Linked DNA regions of Homo sapiens: region 1 is linked to region 2. Evidence: fine-mapped expression QTL. A gene starts in region 2. The other region holds a variant in brackets. All regions are shown on one strand. Distances are from middle to middle. Region 1 has its middle 26 kb from the start of SV2B. Region 2 holds the start of GDPGP1 (GDP-D-glucose phosphorylase 1).

Region 1 (2,908 bases), 840 kb after region 2:
TGGCTCAGATCCTCTCTGTCTTGTCTTGTCCATCGCTGAAATTCTGTGATCTGATATTTACATATGCTCTGCATGGTTATCTGACTAGTTCCATCCTAGCCAGGCTGGCCAGTTCCAGTAAGTCCCTGTACATCCAGACTAACTGTGAATAGTATTCATTGAGTATTTACTCTGTCCAGTTATGCCCTGCAGATCAGGAGAATGATTTATTTGATTTATATCTAGTAAGTGTCATAGTTGGCAAATAGCAGGGCATTATTTTTTGGGAATTAAAAAGGATTACATAGCTTCTTGAGTAATCAGGTTTTTTTTCTGTTGTTGTGTTTTTTTGTTTTGTTTTTGGTTTTTTTTGACAGGTTTTGCTCTGTCATCCAAGGTGGAGAGTAGTGTCATGATCATGATCAGGGCTTACTGCAGCCTCGAACTCCTGGACTCAAGTGGTCCTCCCGCCTTGGCCTCCCAAAGTGCAGGATTATAGGCATGAGCCACTCTGAAAGACCCAGGGTCTTTTTTGTTGTTGGGTATTGAAGTTATTTCCTTCAATAGTTTTTTTTTGTGTAATGCATTTTTAATATAGCTTCTTTTTCTGATTTTATGGGTACAGGGCAATTGCATTATAAATGTACTCAACGTAAGCAAAGTCAGCTAAATGTATGTGATTCCAGGGTTTAAAGATGCTTATTTTTCATACAGCATGAACTTTAAATGCAAGCTGACTACCTCATCTAGTGCTTAGCTAAAGAAACAGCTATCTGTTCCAGTGCAACAGGAATTACTGGTTGGGTTGATTAAATATGTGTCTGAGTACCATATATAGTAGACAATTAAATGAATTTGACATTGACTATACATAATTTTTCACATTACAAACTGTCATTGGAAATGAATCCTGGCATAAAATACATTTCTATTGTAATATATGTTCATAGCAGAAAATTTGAAAAAATATAGCAGAAGATAAAAGTCATCCCTCATCCCTCTATATGGAGATAATTGTAATGATTATTAAGGGTGTATGTCTCTTCAATACTTAATTCTATGCAAATATTTATGTGGTAGGATACAACTTTGAGATCCTATCCTAGGTCCTCGCCCCCTACCTCATTCCCTTGTGCTCTGTCCTGTGGCATTTCTAACAGTCCCACCCGTAGGCCCACCCCATCACTTCTTAAAGGTTCAACATTGCCTTTTGGTGCTTATATCAGAATTAAAAGCGTTGAAAGTCAAGCTCTGGGATGTGAATATTCTGAAAGTCCATGTCCTGAATAATTAAGTGCATAAAATTGAATGAGGTAAACAAGAAGGGAAGGCCAGGCGCGGTGGCTTACGCCTGTAATCCCAGCACTTTGGGAGGCCGAGGTGGGTGGAT[C/T]GCTTGAGGTCAGGAGTTTGAGACCAGCCTGACCAACATGGTGAAACTCTGTCTCTACTAAAAATACAAAAAAACTTAGCCGAGTGTGGTGGCGCGTGCCTGTAGTCCCAGCTACTCATGAGGCTGAGGTGTGAGAATCACTTGAACCTTGGAGGTGGACATTGCAGAGAGCTGAGATCACGCCACTGCACTACAGCCTGGGCAACAAGAGCAAGGCTCTGTCTCAAAAACAACAACGACAACAACAACAACAACAAAACAAAAACAAGAAACCAAACGAAACCAAAACAAAACAAGAAGGAAAGTGGAGCCAGGTCCCCATCTCCTAGGGGAGATGAAGAATCTCCTTATGGGGAAAGTCATGTGGGGGGAATGGAAGGCACAGAACACTTGCCTAGAGAAAGAAATTGGTGGGTTTAAGGGGAACTATGTAGACCCACCTGAGGGGACCAGTACTGAGTTGCCTCTGACTGAGTGAGCACCATCTGTTGCTGGCAATGAGAGCCCCAGGGGAGCTGCCACAGGCCCCATTGCCCGCTTGCCCAGTGTAGGTAAGCGTTTGTATTACTGGTGCTGGGGAACTAAGTCTGCAGTTCCCTCCCTGCCACTGTGCTAGGAGTGCCCATGGAGGCCAGCCAGTGAGTCTCTGGCACATGGACCAACTGACACAAGTGTTGGCCCTCCGTTCCCTGAGATGCTGCTGCAAATTACTTTGTGTGGCCAGTGCCTCTCTTGAAAGGTCAAGTACACTTGTGAGCCCATACACTACCTGGATGGGCAGTGGTGAGGTCACAAGGAAAGAGCCAGCTTTGGTACTTTGGTGGAACTGTGTGAAATCAGCTCTCTGGAGCACACACCTCACCTTTTAGACATTCCAAATTGGGATCATACTGTATGGCCTATTTGGAGACCCTGTTTTTCCACTTTATATTCTATCATGTACTTTACCCTCATGATGAAATAGTCTCCCAGAGTGATTTTAATGGTTTCAGAATATCCCATCACGTGAAAGGTACCATGATTTACTTTAAAAATCCCCTCTTGTTGGACTTTAAAATGATTTCTAGTATTTTGCTGCTACTAATAATGCAACAATGACCTTCATTGTCCTAAATCTTTGTGACTGTCTCTGAATTAAAAAAAAAATGCTTAAAATATGGCAGGCGATCACAAGATAACCATGGTGATCATGATTGTCTGGGTTTTGGCTTAATTTTCTAGGATTATTGGCAGCTGTTGAAGCAGCTGAGGCCCCACCTGCTTTGCAGATGGGCAAGGCCTGCAGAGGCTCTGAATCGAATTAACACACTGGTTGGAGAAAGAAAGGCAAACATAGGAATATAAAATTGCCATGGAAACATGCTTCCTGGCTAAATACACATCTTGGTATCTAACCCATATCTCAGAGTCTATGATGACTTGCATATATGAAATGAGGTCCTGCTTTGAGCTCAGCATTTCAGAGGAGACTGCAGTTCCCAGGAGCCTTTGTCCTTCCTCTTCTGCCTCAGACAGGAAGTCCAGTCTGAGTTGTCCTCA
Region 2 (2,908 bases):
TCTGAGACCAGTCTGAGCAACATGGTGAACCCCTTCTCTACTAAAAATACAAAAATTAGCCGGGCATGGTGGCGGGTGCCTATAATCCCAGCTACTCAGGAGGCTGAGGCAGGAGAATCACTTGAACCCGGAGGCAGGAGAATCACTTGAACCCGGAGGCAGAGCCTGCAGTGAGCCAAGATCGTGCCCCAGCACTCCAGCCTGGGCGACAGAGCGAGACGCTGTCTCAAAAAAAAAAAAACGGAGAAAAGAGCAAAACCAAAAATCTCATTCTCACCTTCACTCCAGGGATCTCTTACCCTCAAAGCCTCCTTTTTAGCAACCACACTGAACTGTCCTCCTCGGCCTCCACCTCCTTCCCATGAGCTTATCTTTGCCACAGGAACCTGGCCTGCATAAATCCGGCAAAAGGGCTTCCAGCCCAAGTTCAAATCTACTTACTCAGAGTGTTGTCTTAAGCAGTTACCAAACCTTTCTGAACCTGTTTCATTGTCCAGTACCTCTCTCCTAAAGATTAAATTAGGTAACGCAGGCAACCATTTAGCACAGTCCCTGGCACATGGTGAGTGCTCAGAAAGCGATAACGGTTACTGTATTATTCAGGTAAAGTTGGGAGAAGGAGCCGGGCTCCCCAAGGCTTCTGTGGTTTAGCCACTGGGCAAGGTCGGCCCCTGCCGGACTGGGGCAGGAAGTTCGGCAGTGCTGAAGCTAGTGGAGCCCAGGGTCAAAGAGCGCCTAACTTTTCCTGGAGGCTGTAAGGTGGCTCCGCGGTGCCACGCTGGGGCCTCAGGCGAGGGCGGGGAGGGCGTGCCGGGAGGAGGGCGCAGCCCGGGCTAGGTCTCCCGGCCTCCAGCTCCCGCTCCTCTGCAGACCTCAGGCCAGCCCCCGCCCCTCCCTCGGGACAGCGCCCCCGAAGCTGTCTCTAGAGGATCCCGGGGTCGGAGGCAGGGTTCAAGGCAGCACTTACAGGAGGATCTCCTGCTTCGTCAGGAACGTCAAGTCCTGGAAGGCAAAGCCAGAGCGGGGATTAGCGGACCGCTGGGAGGCCGCGGCCGCCCCGCAGCCAGCTCCCGGACCCTGCTCCCGAGAAGAGGCCCGCACGCGAGCTCCCCAGGGCCAGGCGTCCCGCGCACCTGGTACTCGGCCAGCAGCTCCTTGGACAGGCGACTGCCCGAGCCCCCCATCGCCCCGCCGCGCGCACAGCTCCGCCAACTCGCCTCGAGACGCAGACAACTTTCTCACTTCCGCCCTTGGGCCGCGTCACTGCCCGGTCCCCGCGGCAACCGCTCCTGGGGCCACCACCCCCGGGCCCGCCCCCTCCTAAAAGCTGCCAGGCGTTCCCAGCCGGGTTTGGCAGGCGAGCTGCCGGCTCCAAGCGGTCCTAGGCGAGCTGGAGGCGGGGCCCGGGGAGGGGCCCGACGCTCCGGGGCGGAGCCCGGGACTCACGGCCCCGCCTCCGGGGTGGGAGGGGGGGGCGGGCCACGCCGCGCGCGTGCGTGCTGGCTGCGTATGCGTCACGGGCGTCATGACCTCGCTGTGGCCCCGGCAGCGGCTGCGGGGAAAGTCGCGAGGTGCATCCGCTTCGGCTGCAGTAGGTGGTGGCGGCGGCAGCCCTGGGTGGGGTCCCATAGGGGCATCTGAGAAGTCACTGGAGCTAGCGTTTCCGGGAAACCTGGAGACTCGCTGAGTGGCGGGGGTCGTCGGCTGCCCCTCTGCCCAGCAAGGGCTTTTCTAGATGTTATCATCAGGCAATCGCTGCACCTGTCGCAGCCCCCAAGCCACCTCTTCCAGAAGTAACCATAACCTTGCTTCCTTCTTAGGCTATTTACTGAGGACCCACTGGATGTCAAGCATTGTGCATAGTTTTCTTCGATTGTTGCAACATCCCTTGCGAGGTAGGTTCCCATTTTACAAAGATGGAAATACGTAAGTCCAAAGGGTGTTAGTGATTTTTCCGGGCGCCGGCATTTAGAAGGTAATCGGTCCAGTCCAAGGCACTTTTAAAGGCTCTCCACTGCTGTTCTCATCATTCCAGCTGACCTGCCGTCCTTTTGACTCCATCTCACCCCTAGACTGCTGACCCTTTGCTCTTGTCCCCTCTTAACCTCTAGGATAATGTTTGGCACATAGTAGGCTCTCAGTAAATATTATCGAATGCATAATAAATGAATGAACGTATACTATTGCAAAAGGTAAGGATTCCAAACTGCTGGGAGGAGGAAGTGGAGGTTGTGTTGGTCAGGCTGGGATTAATTCTTGATCCTTCCAATCCATTATACTTGCTGATCTTTGTAAAGTCTAAATCTGAGTATGTTAGTCTCAGTTTATAACCATTAAATGGTTAAAAACCCAAATCCTGGCCCTCTGTAACTGGACTTCCTCCTATTGGCTCTCTGTCTTTCAGCCACTTTGGGCCCTCAGTCCCTCTTCCATCTCATCCTCAGGGAAGCCTTTCCTGACTCCCTAGACTGCCTAGGAATCTACTTTACACTGGAAGAATACCCAGTGCTCTCCTTGGCAGCATGTGTTTGATAAGACACACTGTATTAACAGGTACATTCCATCATTGTAGAAATATTCAAGGCCAGGCGCGGTGGCTCATGCCTGTAATCTCAGCACTTTGGGAGGCTGAAGCAGGCGGATCATTTGAGGCCAGGAGTTCAAGACCAGCATGGCCAACATGGCAAAACCCCATCTCTACTAAAAATACAAAAATTAGCCAGACATGGTTAAACCTGGGAGCTGGAGGTTGCAGTGAGCGGAGATTGTGCCACTGCAGTCCAGCCTGGGCAACAGAGTGAGACTCTGTCTCAAAAAATAAAAATAAAAAAAAATAACTAGGGTATAGGCCCATCCCAACCTGATCATTTTTCTCTTTTTTTTTGAGACAGAGTCTCGCTGTGTCGCC

What was found. PIP is the estimated chance that this variant, and not a neighbour inherited with it, causes the effect.
Region 1: its variant is fine-mapped to the expression of GDPGP1 in pancreas (GTEx, PIP 0.99).

What each region holds. Positions count from the first base shown.
Region 1 is chr15:91,073,201-91,076,108 of GRCh38, forward strand. No RefSeq gene overlaps it. Among named protein-coding and RNA genes, the nearest start is that of SV2B, 26 kb to the right of the region's middle. The variant C/T (reference allele first, on the strand shown) is at 1,370.
Region 2 is chr15:90,232,702-90,235,609 of GRCh38, forward strand. GDPGP1 (GDP-D-glucose phosphorylase 1) reads left to right here and starts at 1,508. Exons shown (of 4, transcript NM_001013657.3): 1 at 1,508-1,591; 2 at 1,821-1,895. It overlaps CIB1 (calcium and integrin binding 1), which reads right to left and starts at 1,240. Exons shown (of 7, transcript NM_006384.4): 1 at 1,134-1,240; 2 at 968-1,002. The coding sequence starts at 1,184. RefSeq lists silencers at 733-1,182, 1,203-1,642.